Linked DNA regions of Homo sapiens: region 1 is linked to region 2. The links come from fine-mapping of genetic effects on gene expression. A gene starts in region 2. The other region holds a variant in brackets. All regions are shown on one strand. Distances are from middle to middle.

Region 1 (12,122 bases), 28 kb after region 2:
CCTTTTCAAAGGTCCCTGCTCGTCTCTGGCAGATCTCAAAAGCCTCAGGGTATGTTAAAAGGGTCACTCCTCTCTGGTAGATTTCTCCAAAGGCTGGCTGGGTTAGTCTGGGAGGTGGAAAGTGAGAGAGAATGGTGTAAATGTGGTAGCCCTTGGCATGTGATTAATCTCTTCTGAGGCCCCAGAAGCTGCCTCAGGCAGTAGGGTTTCAGATTGTTGAGGGTTCCTTAAAGTGGGGCTGAGATGCAATTAAAGTCTACTTTCTATGCCAGCTTCCCTGGAGCCTCCCTGCCTCACAGGGCTCTACCATCTTTCACTCTGTTTGTGGCAGCAAGGCTCCCTGACCTCTCTTCTTGGCTTTGTGAGCTGGGCCTTTAGGATCCAGAGGGATGGCAGCATCGCAGCTCAGGTCCCAGGGGATTCTGTGCTGATGCCTGGGCTCCAGCAGGGCTAGGTCCCTCCCTGGGAGTGCTGGAGGCAGAGAGACTCCTCTTTGGACTCCTGATTGGCTGAGGCAGCCCTCAACTCAGCAAGAAATAGGGTCTCCCCCTCCTTCTAGCAAAGGGAGATGATGCAATTCCAGCTTCCCGTTCCAGATAAACCATCTACCCATTTTGCATTTGGGCCTGGCTGGGCAGAGGAGACTCTGGTTTGATTTTTCTCAATCTGGCAGGTGCAGTTGGGAGTTTCATTCTCTAGGTTGCCTGTGGGTGGTCTCCCTCATCAGTACCCAGGTTGGTTACGAAATCTAATGACACTTATCCTTGTCCCTTTGATTTCTAAAGGTGTTTTTTTTTTTTTCTAATAACTAAAGGGGAAATCTACTTGGATAACCTCTTAAAAAACAAAGGTGCAGTTAGGAAAGGTTTTAAATACCTTACAAGTTCTTGTAGTAGATGTGTCTGGGGCCTCTTTTTTAGATGAGGCTGAAGCTCCTCTGTAAGGATGCAGTCAGCACGGACTGGGTACCAGGTCTGGCTGCTCACTTCCAGAGCCTTCAGAGCCTGCCACCTTGTGGTTTCTGGTTTTCTGGGCAGGACAGCACTTCTGCCCTGACATTAGGCTGTCAGTTGTTGACTTTATTTGTAGGTGGTGTGTCATCTCTCCTTCAGTCCTGTTTTGCTCCAGCCACAGGGAGCCTATTCTTTTTTTTTTTTTTTTTTGAGACGGAGTCTTGCTCTGTCGCCCAGGGTGGAGTGCAGTGGTGTGATCTCCGCTCACTGCAAGCTCTGCCTCCCGGGTTCACGCCCATTCTTCTGCCTCAGCCTCCCGAGTAGCTGGGACTACAGGCACCTGCCACCATGCCTGGCTAATTTTTTGTATTTTTTAGTAGAGACAGGGTTTCACCGTGTTAGCCAGGATGGTCTTGATCTCCTGACCTCCTGATCCGCCCGCCTCGGCCTCCCAAAGTGCTGGGATTACAGGCGTGAGCCACCGCCCCCAGCCTTGTGTTTGCTTCTGACCCCCAGAAGTCCTACCTTTTCCCCTGCTCAGTCCTTATCTATTTTAGGCATTTAGGGAAAACACCCTAATCAGCTGCTGGTGGCTGAGATCCAAGAGAAACTCAGCTTCCTCTTTAGTGGGTGCATCAGGGTTGGGGCTCCTTAGGAGCCACCTGGCATATGGCAGCCCCCCAAACACCTTTTCAGGGGGTAGTTTGCATTGTCTTCCCCTTCTTGCTTCTGGCTGCAAAGTGGTTCCTATCACCTCTCCTCACACCCTTAAGTTCTCAAGGTTACTATGGGCTACTCCTGTTGCGGTTTAGGTTTGGTTGTTGACTTGGGCCAGAGGTTGCGAGTTTGTGGATGTGTGTGTGGCTGCCCATGGCCTGAGGCTGCACCCACCCATGTTGGTTGTGGCAAGTGTCTCTGACTGATAAGGCAAAAACGAGCAGGGACTTCTCACATTTGCCTTAACTGTCACAGGGCCTCAGCTGGTTGTCTGCTCTTTCCTTCCTGGATCATTTTCCCAGCCCTTAGTTCCCATAGGAAACTTTCTCTCAAATAATGATTTCTGCTGGGCATGGTGGCTCATGCCTGTAATCCCAGCACTTTGGGAGGCCGAGGTGGGCGGATCACTTGAGGCCAGGGGTTTGAGACCAGTCTGGGCAACATGGCAAAACCCCGTCTCTACTAAAAATACAAAAAAATTAGGTGGGAGAATTGCTTGACCCCAGGAGGTGGAGGTTTGAGTGAGCCAAGATCGAACCACTGCACTCCAGTCTGGGTGACAGAGCGGGACCCTGTCTCAAAAAAAAAAAAAAAAAAGAAAAAAAGTCTGCCCTTAAGAGGTATGAATGATTGTGATTTGGTGCTTTGGACAATGCCATGTAGAGTGCTTCTTTGGGGGTGAGGGATAGACAGACCCTAGGGGCTCTGAGCTGAATAATCCTCTTGTTGTCCCTTACATTTCTCTGCCAGTTACACAACAGCCAATGCGGAGTCTGACAATGAGCGGGACTCTGACAAAGAAAGTGAGGACGGGGAAGATGAAGTGAGCTGTGAGACTGTGAAGATGGGGAGAAAGGATTCTCTTGACTTGGAGGAAGAGGCAGCTTCAGGTGCCTCCAGTGCCCTGGAGGCTGGAGGTTCCTCAGGCTTGGAGGATGTGCTGCCCCTCCTGCAGCAGGCCGACGAGCTGCACAGGGGTGATGAGCAAGGCAAGCGGGAGGGCTTCCAGCTGCTGCTCAACAACAAGCTGGTGGTGAGGCTCCAGCTGCCTGTCTCCTTCTCCTTCCCTCCCTCCCTCCATCTCTCTGTTCCTGACCCCTGGGGAATGAAGGCCCGTGTGGTTACTGCCCCTACAAGGTGACATGGGACGAGAAATGGTGAGACAGCTGGTTTTGCATCTGTCCCCCAGGTCACATATCCTCTTCCAAGGAGGCCCAGCGTGGATCCTAGGGCCAGTGTACTGCTTGCCCCAGAGCTGCCTCCCCTCTTGGGAGGGGGAGTGTAGTTCTCTGCTTTCTGTAGAGCTACTGCAGAAAGAGCTCTACCTCTCACCTCTAGGGGGAAATGTGGAAAGAACTGTATTTTTTTTTTCTCCTCATTTCCCTTGAGGCAGAGTCCAAGCTGCCAGCCCCATTACAAGCGACAACTGTGTAGGTCACTCAACCATAATTCTCTTGTCAGGTTCACTGACAGAATATATGCCCACCCAGGTATAAATGCCCCCCCCCCAGAAGTTAGAAGTTTCCCTTTTCCTTTCACACTTTCTTCATGTGTCAGCAAAAGACCTCTCGTGCCTTATGACATCTTGGAGTTGACCTTTCCTCCCAGCAGTTCTAGGAGGTCAGAATGCCCTCACCCCGTAATTGTGCAAGCTACTGGCTAGACAGAGAATGTGTCATACATTAACTGCACGTGGGAAGGGATGACTGGGGGGAAGGCTGCGTGTAGGAGCTGGCCTGATATTGATGACTGTAACATACTAGCTTGGAAATTCAAACCTAGGGTGTGGGGGAAGGCCAAGGCCCCCATTCTCCACAGTTGAGGAAAAAGGGGCCTCACCCGTTTCTGTCTGGTCTGCAGTATGGAAGCCGGCAGGACTTTCTCTGGCGCCTGGCCCGAGCCTACAGTGACATGTGTGAGCTCACTGAGGAGGTGAGCGAGAAGAAGTCATATGCCCTAGATGGTAAGTGCTGACAGCTTCCTGTGGGAAGGTGACTGACTGATTCAGGGGTGGGGCTGGCCCATCTGCCTGGGGACCCGGGGAACCACCAAGATGCTGTCAGCAGTTGTGGCTCAGTTACCCACTAGGGACAAACTCTGGCTCCCAAAGACCCTTGCTTTCTCCTCTGGAAGAAGAGAGCAGTCTTTGCTTATCTGTATATCATGCTGATTAGTAACACACGTGCATGTGTTTCTAGGAGTAGTTGTATCCTATCAATGTTATTCGTTTTTCTCACTCTAGCCACAGAGGGCAAAACCTTTTTTCTTAACCTGAGGTTTTTTGCTGCTGCTTAGAAATCTGGTTTCAGTTTTCTGAGCTGGTGGGGCAGGTGTTCTAAGAATATAGCTAGCTTAGAAGACTCTGGAATCCACTTGGCAAGTCTGTTGGCAAAGGCTCCACCCTGGAGGATAGGGTGCATCTGACCTGTGCCAGGCTCAGGGCTTGGCCTTATCTGTCATGAGGTCAGAGAATGCTTGGACTTTAGAGACTGATGTGTCCTGCTGAACTCCACACACTGAGTCAGGTACCATCAATGGGTAATGGGTTTCTAGGTCTGTGGTTCAGTTAATATCTATTTTTTTTTTTTTTTTAAACAGTCTTTCTCTGTTGCCCAGGCTGGAGTTCAGTGGCCTGATCTCGGCTGACTGCAACCTCCACCTCCTGGGCTCAAGCAATTCTCCTGCCTCAGCCTCCCCAGTAGCTGGGATTACAAGCACATGCCATCATACCCGACTAAGTCTTGTATTTTTAGCAGAGATGGGGTTTCGCCATGTTGGCTAGGCTGGTCTTGAACTCCTGGCCTCAACTGATTCACCCACCTAGGCCTCCCAAAGTGCTGGGATAACAGGCATAAACCACTGTGCCTGGCCAGTTAACTGTCTAAAATGGATTTGTCTACCTTTCTATTGTAAGTACAGCCTTACAAATATTATTGAATCCTTGATAATGTATACTCAAACAGTACCTCAAAGTTAACATTCTAAACATTTGTAGAATTCTGTCAATGGAGAAAGAACAGACCAATTGAGTAGGATGTCTCTGTAGACCCTCAGAAAAATTCCTGGAAGTTTTAACAAAAGATGCTTATTTATGATTACTTTTTCTCTCCAAAAGTTTGTTTTCCCTCCTAAATTTCAGATGAGGATTCTCAGCTTTTGGGCTGATTTTTGGACTCTTCATGTCAACAACCTTTCCTTTCCCTCTTGATCATTGGTCATCTCTTATTAGTGCTAGTAGCCAGCATGAACCCCAAAGACAGAAGTGGAGGCAGTGGTTAGCAGGGCAGCACTTGGTTGGTCTGGCCTCCTGAGCTTAGCACCCATGGACAAAGCTTTACCTGCTGGAGGTCAGATGACTATGGAATGTCTTTGAAGGTTCTGCTCTGAGATCACAGCCTTTAAGAATTATCCTTACTGGGTATAAAGTTTATTTCATTGTATCTCTAGGAGCTGGACCACCAGGAGGCAGTCATTCTGTGGGGTCTCAGGCAATGTCTTGTCTACAACACTGTCTGTCTAGCTTGGCAGGAACTAGTTGTCTCATTCTTTGCTATTATTTTCCTAGTGAGACAGTACTTTGAAGAGGGCAGAGAGAAATCCCCAAAGAGGCAGCGTCCCTCATTGGTGGGGCCATGTGGTCCCTCTCTTTGGGAAGAGAGGTAGAGTCTTTCACAGCATCAGTTGTCTTAAGAATGCATTTGTGGCCAGGTGTGGTGGCTCATGCCTATAATCCTAGCACTTTGGGAGGCCAAGGCAGGAGGATTGCTTGAGCCCAGGAGTTAGAGACTAGCCTGGGCAATATAGTGAGACCTTGTCTCTACAAAAAAAAAAAAAAAAACTTAAAAAATTAGCCAGGCATGGTGGTGGAACATGCCAGCAGGAGGATTGTTTCAGCCCAGGAGGCAGAGGTTGTAGTGAACTGAGATTGCACCACTGCACTCCAGCCTGGGCAACAGAGAGAGACCCTGTCTCAAATAAAAAAAGGAAAACATTTCAGATTAGCCAGTTTACCACCTCAATGCATTACATTTGTTCCATTTTCTCCATGTTCCCTTCCAAACTTGTTTTCTTCAAAGAATTCTTGGCTGGGCACGGTGGTTCGCACCTGTAATCACAGCACTTTGGGAGGCTGAGGTGGGCGCATCACCTGAGGTCAGGAGTTTGAGACCAGCCTGGCCAACAAGGCAAAACTGTCTCTACTAAAAATACAAAAATTAGCCAGGTGTGGTGGCACACACCTGTAATCCCAGCTACTCGGGAGGCTGACGCAGGAGAATCACTTGAACCTGGAGGCGGAGGTTGCGGTGAGCCTAGATCGTGCTATTGCACTCCAGCCTGGACGACAGAGTGAGACTCTTGTCTCAAAAAAAAAAAAAAAAAAAAAAAAAATCCTATGTTGCAGTGTCTTCTCCAGTGCATAGGCATGATGGTCCTTATCTGGTGGTCCGTAAGCTCCAGCCTCGATACTCTTAAGTGACGCTTGTCAGAACTTTCATGTTTATGGGCTTTCATTTCTTTGTTAGAACACTAACCTAGAAAACTCGGGTAAGACTAAGTGAACGTCATCTCTGGTCAGACCTCAGTCCATGTGGCTCTTGTGAAAGAGTTTTGGCCTAGAGCTAATTAATATTGTTGGATCGTGGATCCTTTTGAGAATTTTTTTTTTTAAAGAGATGGGGTCTGCCTATGTTGCCCAGATTGGTCTTGAACTCTTGGTCCCAAGCTATCCTCTCCTTGGCCTCTCAAAGTTCTAGGATTACAGGTGTGAGCCAATGTACCCATCCCCTTTAGGGAATTTTTTCAAAGCTGTGATCTCTCTCCCCACTTACTTAAATTTTATACAACTTGAGATTCATGGACACTGCCCCTCCAGAGTAAGGTCTGTTGGGGACAATTTCTGATTGTGTTGGATCCGTTGTTGTTGTTTTTTTTGAGGTGGAGTTCGTCGCCCAGGCTGGAGTGCAGTGGTGCAATCTTGGCTCGTTGCAACTTCTGCCTCCCAGGTTCAAGTGATTCTCCTGCCTCAGCCTCCTGGGGAGCTGGGACTACAGGATGTGCCAACATGCCTGGCTAATTTTATATTTTTAGTAGAGGCAGGGTTTCACCATGTTGCTCAGGCTTGTCTCAAACACTTGGCCTCAAGTGATCCACCCACCTCGGCCTTCCAAAGTGCTAGGATTACAGGCATAAGCCATCGTGCCTGGCTGGATCCTTTTATATTTTAAATGCTAAAATCTGCTTCAAGCACATCAGGTGGGCATTATAAAAAGAAGGTAACTGGGGTTTCTAATGACAGATGGGGAAGCCAAGGTGAAGCAGAAGTCATCCCTGAAGTCTTCCCTTAGAAGCCGTTTGCAGCCTTTTCTGAGACAGTCTTGCTCTGTCACCTAGTCTGGAGTGCAGTGGTGCAATCTCGGCTCACTGCAACCTCTGCCTCCTGGGTTCAAGCGATTCTCCTGCCTCAGCCTTTTGAGTAGCTGGGACTACAGGCGCCTGCCACCACGCCCAGCTAATTTTTGTATTTTTGGTAGAGATGGGGTTTCACTGTGTTGGCCAGGCTGGTCTCCGACTCCTGACCTCAGGCGCTCTACCCGCCTCAGCCTCCCAAAGTGCTGGGATTACACAGCACAGAGGCGTGAGCCACTGTGACTGGCTTCTTTGCGGCCTTTCATTCTGCTCAAGTTCACAACTATTTCCAAACAAGTCCAAGCTGGGTAGGGATTGGTGAGAGCTAAAGCAGTCATTCTTCCCACAAGCCTTCCTATGAAAGTGTGCATAAGAGCTATGTCAACTCTGGATCTACCTTCGTCCTACAGGAAAAGAAGAAGCAGAGGCTGCTCTGGAGAAGGGGGATGAGAGTGCTGACTGTCACCTGTGGTAATAACACCCTGCAGTGTTCTGGGAAGAGCCAGCAAGGGCCAAAGCAGAGGACAGCCCTTTCTTTTCTCTGCCTGGGCCACAGAGGCATTTTCCAAAGGATCCAGGAGAGGGAGTTCTGGCTTGTATCTCCACATGCCTCAGTCTACCCCTAGCCAGAGACAAGGGAAGTTTCTGGTAGGGGAGGTGGCTTAGGGATGAGGCAAGCGGGGAATACAAGCTTTTTTTCTGATGGGGCTTGGAGAAATGAGTAGCTTTGTTAAGAGTCATCCTAGCTACAAAACTGGAGTTCTTGGCTCTCAGGAGGCTGGGACAATCTGCAGCTCCCCTATCCTGCATAAGCTCTTCTTTCCCCTGCGTGTGATCCCTGGCTGCTGGTACTTTGGCTTCTTTGCTTGGTTCATGTGAGGAAAAGTAGATGTGAGCTCACCCCCCAGAAGTTTAGTGGTCAATTTATTAGGCTGCAAAAACATCAGCCCTTTTTGTGGTCTCATGTGAGGCAAAGTTCTGTCAGCTTACCTGGGCCACGGCTAACTCATATCCTGGGGTCTGGTTCCAGCACCTGAGTTTTAGTGAAAATGTTCCTTTCCTTTCCCACCGCCACCCTTGCTTTCCATGTCTCCACCCTCAGACTGTGAGCTAAGTGAGAGGCTGTGTTTCTCCATCTGTTGCTGAAACTTTTGTCTCTGCAAGGGTTCTTCTCAGAGGCCAGGTAACTGTTTCTTGGGTGTCACTGCTTCCCTGGGCTTCCAAGGATGAACAGCTATTCCTGAGGAACAGCTGTTTGGATTAAACATGGAAATGAGCCTCTAGAAGTATCTGATACCCCCCG[GA/A]TACTTAGCATATACATGAAAAAGCAACTTGGGCTGGTTACTCATCGAATGTCAACTGTGCTGCTAGGAACAATGCTGGGGGGATGGGGAAGTAAGACTTTGTTTCTGAAGACAGATGATGGGAAGCTGGCTGGCTGGTTCCCTTTGGGAGGGGGGATGTGGGGGAGAAGGCATATATAGGAGGTCTTTCTTCCTCTGGTTCTGTTGGTTTCCAAGTAACATCAGAAATTCCTAGAATATCCCCTCCCAATGTGACTATCCTAAGAAATTGCTTCCCAAGTCCCAGTGATACACCTGTATGCTTAAAGGCTAATGAGACCCACTTTTTTGTCTGCCCAGAAGATAAGTAGTATAGTCAGGTCTCATACTTTTATGCTGATTGTTTTCATGCTTTTCAAGTTTTTATTAATGCCTGTGGCTGTACTCCTTATGAGTGTAGGAGAGATTTACTGTGTAAGAGAGATTTACTGTGGTGAACCCAGCTTTTTTTATACCTAGAATACTTTGGAGACTTGTAAGCCTACCATTATCTACTAAAGAATACTAATTGGGGCCAGAGGTCCGTAAAGAATGGGGATTACGTACAGATGAAAATTAGGTATTTTCAGCTCTAGTTGAGGGTACAGGGATAGGGGACAATGCAACTAGGCTGTGGTTGGGGCATCCATTCCTTGCAGTGATGGTACTCAGCCCTTGTCCCTGAGCTTGCTGCTTCCCCCCTAGGTATGCGGTGCTTTGTGGTCAGCTGGCTGAGCATGAGAGCATCCAGAGGCGCATCCAGAGTGGCTTTAGCTTCAAGGTGAGGACAGGCTTTTCCTCCTTCCTTGTGCTGGCCTATCCCAGATTCCCCACTCCTTTCCAGCTCCCTGCCAAAAACTTTTCTACAGCCTCAGTGACTTGCCTTTCTTCTTTTTTTTTGAGACAGAGTCTCACTCTATCGCCCAAGCTGGAGTGCAGTGGTGTGATCTTGGCTCACTGCAACCTCCTGGGTTCAAGCGATTCTCCTGCCTCAGCCTCCCAAGTAGCTGGGATTACAGGCATGTACCACCATGCCCGGCTAATTTTTGTATCTTTAGCACAGATGGGGTTTCACCATGTTGGCCAGGACTGGTTTCGAACTCCTGACCTCAGGTGATCCACCTGCCTCAGCTTCCCAAAGTGCAGGGATTACAGGCATGAGCCACTGCATCCGGCCCTTGCCTCTCTTTTAGCAACTCTGGTGTCTGATGTTAGTTTATATTTACATTTTCCCCTTAGGAGCATGTGGACAAAGCCATTGCTCTCCAGCCAGAAAACCCCATGGCTCACTTTCTTCTTGGCAGGTGGTGCTATCAGGTAAGCTGCGTTTCAGTGCTTGACATAATGGTCCTAAATGCCTTCTGACACCGATTTCCTTGCCAGGAAGAACAAGATCCTCAGCCTTCTCTGGCTCAGGTGCCCTTTCTTCTGAATGCTCGTATTATTGGTGGTTCGACCCAGCCCCGTTTGACCCTATTTTCAATATATCCCCAAAGATTTAAAGAAAAAAAACCTTTTAAAACCTCTTATACACACCTTGATCTTTTTGTGGCAGGTCTCTCACCTGAGCTGGCTAGAAAAAAAAACTGCTACAGCCTTGCTTGAAAGCCCTCTCAGTGCCACTGTGGAAGATGCCCTCCAGAGCTTCCTAAAGGTATGAGAGGGGCAGGTGGCAGGCAAAAACACCAGGGTAACCTTGTTTTTTCCTAAGGACATTATTGAGACCCTTAATGGGAGGGGTTTTCCTAGTCGGGGGCAATTTTGTGTTTGCCTGTTCTATGGGAAAACCAGAATCACTTGCACAGCTTATCAAAAATATAGGTTTCTTCAGACCCACTGAATCAGCCACATGGTTGGGGACTAGAAATCTAGTTTAATAAACTTCAGCCTGATTAGAATATAGGAACCTCTTACTGAAATATCTTTGTCCCTTTTCCCAGGCTGAAGAACTACAGCCAGGATTTTCCAAAGCAGGAAGGGTATATATTTCCAAGGTAAACTCATTTGTCTACTTCAACATAGATCTGGGAACTCCTGAAAGTACACAGTATCAGGTTTCACTGTTGTCTCTTTTCAGTGCTACAGAGAACTAGGGAAAAACTCTGAAGCTAGATGGTGGATGAAGTTGGCCCTGGAGCTGCCAGATGTCACGAAGGAGGTAAGGCTTTTTAATACTGCCTGTTGGGCAGATCACCTGAAGTCGGGAGTTCGAGACAGCCTGACCAACATGGAGAAACCCCATCTCTACTAAAATTACAAAATTAGTTGGGCCTAGTGGCGCACGCCTATAATTCCAGCTACTCGGGAAGCTGAGGCTGGAGAATCGCTTGAATCCGGGAGGTGGAGGTTGCAGTGAGCTCAGATCGTGCCATTGCACTCCAGCCTCGGCAACAAGAGCAAAACTCCATCTCAAAAAAAAACCAAACAAAACTGCCTGTCATCACTGAATCATCATGTGACATTTTTAGAAAATAATCTTTCCTAGAGGTCTTATTTCCCTAGTAAAAAAGAGTCTACCTCTAGGGGAAGAGACAGATTTAATAGGCTCCAGGCTATCCTGGGGAAGTAGGAAAAAGACTGTAGCAGAGCTCAGGAAGGAAGCAAAGGGCCCCTCTTCTTAGGTTCCACTGGTTTGGGAAAATGCTGGTTTAAATTTTGAGCCCTAGATTTGTTCTTTGTCTCCCTAGGATTTGGCTATCCAGAAGGACCTGGAAGAACTGGAAGTCATTTTACGAGACTAACCACGTTTCACTGGCCTTCATGACTTGATGCCACTATTTAAGGTGGGGGGGCGGGGAGGCTTTTTTCCTTAGACCTTGCTGAGATCAGGAAACCACACAAATCTGTCTCCTGGGTCTGACTGCTACCCACTACCACTCCCCATTAGTTAATTTATTCTAACCTCTAACCTAATCTAGAATTGGGGCAGTACTCATGGCTTCCGTTTCTGTTGTTCTCTCCCTTGAGTAATCTCTTAAAAAAATCAAGATTCACACCTGCCCCAGGATTACACATGGGTAGAGCCTGCAAGACCTGAGACCTTCCAATTGCTGGTGAGGTGGATGAACTTCAAAGCTATAGGAACAAAGCACATAACTTGTCACTTTAATCTTTTTCACTGACTAATAGGACTCAGTACATATAGTCTTAAGATCATACCTTACCTACCAAGGTAAAAAGAGGGATCAGAGTGGCCCACAGACATTGCTTTCTTATCACCTATCATGTGAATTCTACCTGTATTCCTGGGCTGGACCACTTGATAACTTCCAGTGTCCTGGCAGCTTTTGGAATGACAGCAGTGGTATGGGGTTTATGATGCTATAAAACAATGTCTGAAAAGTTGCCTAGAATATATTTTGTTACAAACTTGAAATAAACCAAATTTGATGTTATCAGCTCTTTATTCTTACTTGACACCTCCATAATTGTTTCTACCTACAGAGGCTGTTGCAGGCAGGTTATGGTTAATGCTCTTTACAGTATATAAAATACAGGTATCGAGCTTATTTTTAGCCTAAACAAGGCCTATTGCAACTAAGCAGGTACTCCCTGCCTTTCTCATGTTCATTTTTAGGGCCACGAGCACAAACCCCTAAATCCACCTAGAAGAAAATTTAAGACTGAGATGCATAGGCCGAGCGTGGTAGCTCATGCTTGTTGCTTGTAATCCTAGCACTCTGGGAGGCCAAGGCGGGTGGATCACTTGAGGCCAAGGGTTTGA
Region 2 (8,505 bases):
GCGTTAACACCCATCACTTGAAGGCTGCTGAGGTTGGCATCTCTGCTTAGAGGGCTAGAACGCTGGTTCCGTTCTCTCTGTGGGGGTAGAGAGAGCCTCTTTATAGCTGACTCAACGGATGGGACAGGACTAGATGCTGTGTTTGGCAGGAGCTGGCTGTCCAGAATGAAGTTGGCCTGGTGGATAACCCTCTGAAGATTTCCTGGTTGGAGGGACAGCCCCAGGATGCCGTGGGCCGCAGCCACTCAGGACTGTCAAAGGTGAGGAGTCAGGCCTCGCCCGGCTGGGCGCTCAGGTCTCGGAGCTCTTCCTACCTGGGCTCCTCTCAGGCTCTTTCCTTCCAAATTCAGATCTTGGGGCCTAGAGTGAGCTTGGCAGGTCCACCAACCCAGGCAAGAGGGGCTGTGATTTCACGTTGAACCCTTTTCCTCTCTGAGGGCCAGAGAGGCCCCACCCACACTGTATTCTTAGACCTTGCTTTCTCTCCATATCTGGCCTCCTGTTGGGACTCTCCTTCTCACCAAAGGGATCTTCCTGGCCCTCAGGTTGCTTGGTTGTGGTGTGTGAAGCATTTGGAGCTTAGACGACCCAGTGCTGCAGAGAAGGGGCAGGTGACTAGGACAGCCACTTCCTTCCCAGCACTTCAGTTTTCTGGATGTGTCTCTGGCTGCCCCAGAAAGGGACCGACTGTCAAGAGGCAATATCTCCTCTTGAAGTAACCCTGGCAGGCTGGGCGCAGTGGCTCATGCCGTTAATCCCAGCACTTTGGGAGGCCGAGGGGGGCGGATCACCTGAGGTCAGGAGTTGAAGACTAGCCTGACCAACATAGTGAAATCCCGTCTCTACAAAAACACAAAAATCAGCTGGGCATGATGGTGCGCACCTGTAATCCCAGCTACTCAGGAGGCTGAGGCAGGAGAATCGCTTGAACCAGGGAGGCAGAGGTTGCAGTGAGCCGAGATCGTGCCATTGCACTCTAGCCTGGGCAACAGAGCAAGACTTCATCTCAAAAAAAAAAAAAAAAAAAGAAGGAACTCTGGCTACCCTGCTGACACGGGGTGGTGCCTGCCCAGAGTCTGGGTGCCCTGCCTGGGTGAAGCGTAGACCTTCCAGCTTGTGTGTAACCCCCAACCTGCAACCATGGCCCTGGTGTCTTTTGGCCTGGATACAAAGGCTAGGGCTGTGGGGCTCCTGGCCACACCTGTCCCCACCTTGGTGGAACAGATTGCTTTGGGGGCAAGATCTAGCAACCTGGTTCTTCCCTTCTCTGCAGTGGCCCAGGGCCTGTCTGGTGTGTCCACAGCCCCTCAGCAGGCTGGCAGGAGGCTGCTCTCATTACTTTACCCACGCCAGCCTGCTCCGTTGCCTGCCCCTCCACTTGACTGGGGTGACTGGAAAGCAGCTTTCTGCAAGTGTGTCCCAGATCCTGGATGGAGGGAAACAAACTGGCCTGGGCCTGACTCAGGGCCCTGCTTTAGAGACCTCATTCCCACCTTCAAGTCCCAGCATTTCACAGCCCCAGATAACACTCCATAGATTGTGTTAGAATTTTATTCATTCTCTCCTGTATCCACAGCTCGGTACCTATACACAAGAGGAGGAAAGAGGGAGGCCACTGATTTAGGTCGTAGAAATGGTGTGTGTCAGAGCTTCCCTCTCCCCTTTGCTACTCTTAGCGAGTCCCGGGGGGCCACCAACACATGGCCCAGCCAGTGCTGCTGGGCTCTGGTTTCTGTGTTCTGGTGAGGCCATGGGGTGGGGCCGTAGCACAGCCTGTGGCTTTGACCCAGTGGGCTTGGCCTGGTTGGCAGGCCCATCGTCGGAGGGTTCAGGCGGCAGAACTGTCTAATCCCGGGAGACGGTTCTGGAAACCAGCTGTGCCGCTTCGCTGTTGAATGCCCATCCCTGGATCCAGTTCTCCTCTCTTCGAGGAAGGAAACCTGCCAGGGCTCCCATCACTAGTAATTCTGGGAATTCCCCAAAGTACCCCTTTGCAAGCCGTGCGCGTGCCTGTGGCTGGCATTCTCTAGAGCTGCCTTCCTTCACCAGGGATTGCTCCGGGTAGCTGTGTTGGCAGACTGAGCCACGTCCTCATTTCTGCTAAGGATTTGCCTGGTCTTTTTCCTGAGTTATACTCTATCTCTACCTATCTCTTCCTATGTGGCCAGCCCCTGTATGCGCCTCCCCTTTGCTGGTGGCTCCAGGCCATGGTCTAGACAGCGCTGTCCATTAGAACTTTGTGCAGCGATGTTTACGTCCATTCTGCACTGACCAGTGTGGTAGCCATTAATCATGTGTGGCCACCGGGCATTTGGAATGTGGAATCTGGAATAACGGTGCAGCTGAGGAACTGAACTGTTAATTTTATTTATTTCAATTCAGTGTCATGCAGTGAGTGGCCACCAGATTAGACAGGGTCAGGCCTTCTCCCCTTTCTTCCTGGGCCTTCCCACTTTCCTCTTCTGCCTGGGTTGGACTGCCTTTACCCAAGCTTGTCCTGTGACCTCTCTCTGTTGACAGTGGCTTCCAAAGAGGCTGGCATGGGGCACTCATCTCTTCTGCTCAGTCTGTGTCCTCCCACTCCCTGATCTGACCCCGTGCCACCTTCTGGCTCTGCCAGCCTCTACCTGGTTCCTGTAGTGCCGCACAGAGCCTCCCTTTCCCGGCACAGCCTCCCTTTCCCGGCATAGCCAGCTTTCTTCAGGGTCCTGCCAGGAAGGGCCGCCCCCCCAACATTTCCAGATTGCCTCTGTCCCTCCACTCTGGGGTGCCTGGAAGGACTGTCCAGGACCCAGAGAGCAGGCAGAGCCCTGGATTCCTATCCTGGAATCCTCCCCCAGGATGAAGAAGCTCTGCCTGCCTGAACCCTCCAGCGATGGGCCTGGAGTCCTGTCCCTGTCCTTTCCTTAATCCCCAGCCTCTGGATCTTCCAGTCACCCCGGCTTTGCCCACCCTCACCCCATTTAGAAGCTGGGCTCGCTAGGAAACTGCTCCCTTAGCATCTGCAGAACTTCCTCAAGAAGTGAAATCCCCAGGTCCACTTTGAAGGAGAGGAAGGGATCACTGAGGTCTGGGGTAGGTGTCCTCTGGAAGCAGGGAGTGTCCACAAGGCCCTTCTCTGAGTGCTGGTGGAGGGCACTCGACAGAGAGAGCGCCGATGGCAGGGTGGCAGAGTAGGCTGCTGTGTAGGCAGGTGGGGGCTCCAGGATGTTGGGGCAGCTTGAGCTCTCTCGGTAGAGGCGTGGGGGCTTGGGTGGGGCCAGCAGGGTGGCCCGGGGCTGCTCGTCCCCCCACAGTGGCAGGCGCCGGCCATCTGGCCTCCCTTGTAGCTCCCGGATGACTTCTCGGTTGCTGTACTCCTCGTGGTCCCCACCTGCTGTGCTGGCCTGGCTAAGCACACTACTCTGTCGCCGGAGCCGCCGTGGCCGCCCCAGGCTCAGCTGCTTGAAGAAGGAGGCGTTGCGGAAGGAGCCTTTCCGCCAGGTCTCCATGGGGCCCAGGGGAGCCAGCAGACAGGTGTTCAGGAGCAGCCAGGGTGCATGTGGTCCCTGCTGGGGCAGTGAGTGCCAGCAGCTGGGGAGGCTCCCCTAGGAGCAGAGGCCTCAGGGTTTCCACTCAGCACAGACCTTTGACCACATCTTGGATGGTGAGAGGAGGGCTCAGGAAGAAGGAACTTTTTTGCCCAGGAGAGCAGACAGCTGGGAGTTCCTGGCAGCAAGAGTTTCCCACAGGGACAGGAGTGGCCTGGTTACTGAATAGGGTAGTGGAAAAAAACCCAGGAGGAAGAAGCAGCACTTACTGGAGCCAGAATGAGGGCAGCTCCGGCGGAGGCAGAGGTGGACCTTCTCGGGCTGGGTGAGGCTGGCGAGCGCTCCTTCCACAGGCAGGCAGCAGATGGCCCGAGCTCACTCGCCCTGGTGTTTGCCTGGCTCCTATATGTCTCTGGGGCAGTGTGGGGCCGTGCCCTCTCTGCCAGTGGCTCCCGGACTCTGATGAGTGGCCTGGCTGTTTGTGGCGGTGGAGATGTGTTTTTGTTCTCAGCTGACTCAGTCAGGTGGGAAGCCAGGTTTCGTGCTCTTGGGTAATTGCAGCATCCGCGTGCAGGGATGGGGCAGCTGGGACCAACACCCCAGGGCAATGGGGAGCTTAAGATTCCTCTGGGGACTCGTGTGGGGGCAGCCCTGCTTTATGTGTCACCACGCGGCTTCCTTTCTGATCACAGCCCCACCACCCTGGGCCCCCAGCAGGTGCGCCTGGCTCCCTGCCCACAGTGTCTGGGTAGGAAGAGTTCGGGGCGGGTGGGAGTTAATTGAAAGGCAGGCGTGTGGAACGATTGTTGGGGAAGGAAGAGACCTGTAGCTGGTATGGGTGACTCAGCCCCGCTGTCAGGCCCTCACGAGCAGGAACAGGAAGGGGGGCAGAGGGTGTGTTAATGGGGAGCAGCGCCATGCCTGTGATGGGCGGGCTCTGCTGCCCAGGGTTGGGCTGGGGGCCCGCCAAGGGTGGCTCCAAGTTTTCTTGGCAGAGCAGCATTAACCTGGGGATGGGAGATGTGGCCTCCTCTTGGCCTGCCATCAGCCTGGCTGCTATTTCCTTGTCCTCCCTTGTTTTACCCTAGAGGGCTCCTGCCAGGAGAGCGGCTGCTGAAGGCCGGGCCGTGTTGCCTCCTACCTGGCTGTGCTCCAGCCCTTCCCCTCTGGCTACCGGGCTTCCTCTGGGGTCCTCCTTCTCTTGCAGGAGGCTGGGCCAGGGAGGCTGCCGTGAATTGTCAGCCGTGCTCTGGGCCAGGCTTAGCAGTCCGGCCTAGCTGGGACTGCTGCAGCCGGGGAGAGGGGAGGGGTGCAGCCATCGGGAGGAACAGGGGAACCCAGGCTGAGTAACACTTCCTGTTTCTCTACACCCCTTACTCCAAACCTGCTGGCCAGGGCCTGGCATCTCAACCCTAGCTGCTCCCTTCCTATTCCCCGGGTCACTGACCACCACATTTTCCTCCTGCCTTGCTCTGTGACAGCGTCCCCATGCGGGGTACCGCGGATCAGGGCCCCACAGCTCTCTGCTACGGGCAGGCCACCGCATCTTGCAATCCCTGGCCTAGCTCACTTCTGTGCCAACTCAGGTGTGCTTCACACTTCTCTGAGAAGCTGTTGGGACCACATGATCATCACACAGCCTAAGCGGCACCGAGGGAGGAAAAGGTTTAATTCCCACCGCAGACCTTATCAGGGCGTGGGTTGGCAGCTTAGGTCCCGCTGTAGAGCTGCTTCTCCACCCTACAGCCTTGGCCCATTCAGATGGTTGTTTATTATTCTTTTGATTATGGGCCCTGCCCTCCAGGAGCCCTGGTGTGTAGTTTTAGAGGCACGCTGGCCTCATGCTTGCCTTTTTCCCCTTCGAGGGTGGGGCATTCCGGGCTGCCTCGGGTAGGGCTCCCTTCTGCATCCTCAGCAAGAGCCAGACCACAGGGCACCGGGCATAGAGAGTGCCAGGGTCAGTGCCCAGCAGAGCCAAGTGCATCCCTGCTCCTCAGACAACTTCCCTTCCTTGGGAACCTAAGAGGCAGAAGCTACGGGGTAGAGGGAAAGGGGTGAAGGGTAAAGGGCCCAGAGGAAATGAAGGGAGACGAGGGCCTGGCTTAGAGGGCCCGCAGGTGATTCCTGAGAAACAGATGGACCGGAGCTGACGCGGCCTGGGGAAAGGGAGGGGGAGCTGGCTGGGTAGAAGCCGGCCTGGAGGCCAAAGGTGGCGTGTTCTGGGGGACACAGGCGAGCCAGGATTCCAAAAGGATGCTCCGGGTTCCTTCCCTTCCTCTGCCGTCCTCCCTCCGAGACTCTTAGAACGCAGCACTGCCTCGGCACCGTACTCGGAGTCTGTGAGGCTGTGCCCTGCTGTCCCTGACCCCTCCCTGTCCCTGCCCTGTCCGACAGGGCTCAGTGCTGTCAGAGAGGGACTACGAGAGCCTCGTCATGATGCGCATGCGCCAGGCGGCCGAGCGGCAACAGCTGATCGCACGGATGCAGCAGGAAGACCAGGAGGGGCCGCCTACGTAGCCCCAGCTCCAGCCATCCACCCCTCAGCCCTTTTCTTCAACGTCACCAATAAATTTTTTTTTTTTTTAAGATTTTACCTCTATCCCATACATAGGTATAAGGTGCTGGGCTCTGCCGCAGAGCGCTCCACCCAGGCCTGGCGCCCCTCCCAGGAAGTGGGCAGACCCCCAGGGAAACGCTCCGCAGGGTGAGAGTCCCAGAGTCCGTGCACAAGCAGAGCACAGGCGCAGCCACTCATCACAGCCCTTTATTGGCTTGGGCTAGCTATGCAGGAGCCACGCGCCAGGGCCGCTGGAGTGCCCAGCTCCGGCCCGGGGCAGCTGCCCGAGGAACATGGCCTACACAAGGCCCTCGGCCCAGGCCCGAAGCAGGAGGGCAGCTGGGAGCACCAGGGCACCGGGCACTGCCCTCTCCCACTGCTTGACGCAGGGTTTCAGAGAAGGCCATTCACTGCCCTTTGGGGCTGGGCCCATGGCGGTGATGATTTGGGAAGAGAGGAGCAAGGCAGACGGTGAGGCAGGAGCTTGGAGGTCAGGGCCCACAGCAGCCCCTCCACAGGGGTGCCCCGTCTGCAAATCAGCATGAGAAGGTCACTCCTTGTGCAGACACCACACCAGCGTCTGGCCCACCCCCGTCATGCTCAGCACACGGAAGCCCCTGCGTTCCAGCTTGTCCAGGACTATGCGGGGAGGGTCATCGACGTAGTATTCATAACTGCAAAGAGACAGGATGGGGGGGGTGAGGAGGGGCACACAGCAAGCTCCTGGTACAAAGCTAGTGTCTGCAGCAGGCAGCCTGGCCACTCTTGTAGTGACTCACACTTGCTGGCTGCTTGCTGGGCGCTGGGGTAAGTGCACGCCCCCTGCCTCCTCCCCTTCTAGGTACTTCACGAGCTATCTCATTTATTCTTCCCAACAAGCTAGTGAAGGTGCCACTGTTGTGGCCATTGATAGATGAGAAAACAGAGGGGTTAATCAGGTTCCCCAGCGTCCCAGATGGTAGACCATGTTAGTCTGACCACAGCCCTGCTGCCGCCCTCCCTGGGCTTGCTCCCCACCCAGGCTTCCAGGTAGGAGGAGGCTGAGGCTGCAGTGAGCCATGATTGCACCACCGCACTCCAGCCTGGGCGACAGAGACTCCATTTCAAAAAAAAATAAGCCTCCAGGCCCCTCACTGCCCTGGCTGTCCTGCAGTTCTGTAGCAACAAGGCTGAGCCCCAGTAGCTCCTGGCTCTGTGCGCCACTCCCTAGCATGGAGAGTGCTGGTAGTCCTTCTGTCAGGTTTAATTGATGCTGAAAGACCATGAAGCAGACAAAGGGCTCAAGCCCCAAGCTGGGCATGGAGAGGCAAGTGCCTCATGGCAAAGGGAGGGGGCTGGCTTCTGTCCCCGAGCCTTGACCCAGGGGCTGGGATCAGCCCTCCTCTTTCCCCGATTTGAACTGGCACTCACTCTGACAACTCTTTTCAGAGAGCCTGTGTAGCTTGGGTTCTCCCTGCCTCCAGGGGTGAGAGGAGGAATGGAAGCAGTAGTCACAGTTTAGACATGGAGGCATTAGGAAGAATGCCAAGGGAAATGGCTAGGTCCCCAGGCAGCAGCCACCCTGGAGGTAGGACGCAGGCTCCCTGCTCCCTGCTTCTAGGGCTTAGCTTTGCGACTCATGCAGATCCTCACGACAAAAACCTTTCTCTCTGTGCCTGTCTGTCCTTGATGGGGTCCAGCTTAGGAGAGGGCAGGGCAAGGAACAGTCTGCTAGTGGAGTCCTAGACCCAGGGAACGGACTCTGTTTCTGCGGTTCCAGTAAGGATGTGGAAAGCTTTCAGAGCAAGCCTCGTGGGGGAGAGGGGGGATGTTGGAGAGGCTACAGATGGGACCAACTCCTCCGGAGAACAGAGCCCCAGGATGCAGGCAGGGGGCTCTGATGCTGGGCCCTGTCCCTGGGCTTGGAGGTTGTATAAAGGGAGCAGAGGCAGGTCTAGGGGCTGGCAGGGAGAGGATACTGAGGGAGGCTGCTACTTACAAGTTGTTTCCCAAGGCTCTTCTCTTTGAAGCCCCCAGATGCTGCATCAGCTCTGGATCCGACTGTTCATCGCCCACCATAGTGGGGCCCACCTCCTGCAAGGTAAGCCACAGTGGCTGCTTGGCTGGCTGCCAGGAGGAGGTGGAAGGTCTTGCCTGTCCTTCCTCCCCTGCCTGCTAGCCCTGAGTAAGGTTCAGGTAAAGGCTACAGAGAGTAGCAAGGATTCTTAGGGGCTGAGCACAAGCTGTGAAGGGGTGGAGCCCATCAATGATCAGGAGGAGCAATGTAGGCGCCCTCCCTAGTGCCTTAAAGCTCAGCTTTAGCCAGGCAAAGTATCACGAGCCTATAGTTCCAGCTACTGAGGCTGAGGTGGGAGGATCGCTTGAGGTGGGAGGAGTTTGAGGCTGCAGTGAGCCATGATTGCACCACTGCACTCCAGC

What was found. PIP is the estimated chance that this variant, and not a neighbour inherited with it, causes the effect.
Region 1: its variant is fine-mapped to the expression of C15orf62 in whole blood (TOPMed, PIP above 0.99).

The regions. Positions count from the first base shown.
Region 1 is chr15:40,735,558-40,747,679 of GRCh38, reverse strand. It overlaps RMDN3 (regulator of microtubule dynamics 3), which reads left to right. Exons shown (of 13, transcript NM_018145.3): 5 at 2,421-2,703; 6 at 3,531-3,633; 7 at 7,487-7,547; 8 at 9,104-9,179; 9 at 9,638-9,715; 10 at 9,954-10,052; 11 at 10,339-10,392; 12 at 10,476-10,556; 13 at 11,086-11,793. The coding sequence ends at 11,139. Among named protein-coding and RNA genes, the nearest start is that of RMDN3, 14 kb to the left of the region's middle. RefSeq lists a silencer at 918-1,087 and an enhancer at 6,279-7,151. The variant GA/A (reference allele first, on the strand shown) is at 8,380.
Region 2 is chr15:40,765,482-40,773,986 of GRCh38, reverse strand. It overlaps C15orf62 (chromosome 15 open reading frame 62), which reads right to left and starts at 4,007. Exons shown (of 1, transcript NM_001130448.3): 1 at 1,538-4,007. The coding sequence starts at 3,491. The coding sequence ends at 2,964. GCHFR (GTP cyclohydrolase I feedback regulator) reads right to left here. Exons shown (of 3, transcript NM_005258.3): 2 at 8,066-8,160; 3 at 6,279-6,761. The coding sequence ends at 6,638. DNAJC17 (DnaJ heat shock protein family (Hsp40) member C17) reads left to right here. Exons shown (of 11, transcript NM_018163.3): 10 at 150-260; 11 at 5,925-8,505. The coding sequence ends at 6,047. RefSeq lists enhancers at 2,874-3,490, 3,448-3,537, 3,491-4,109, 4,728-5,346, 7,807-8,505.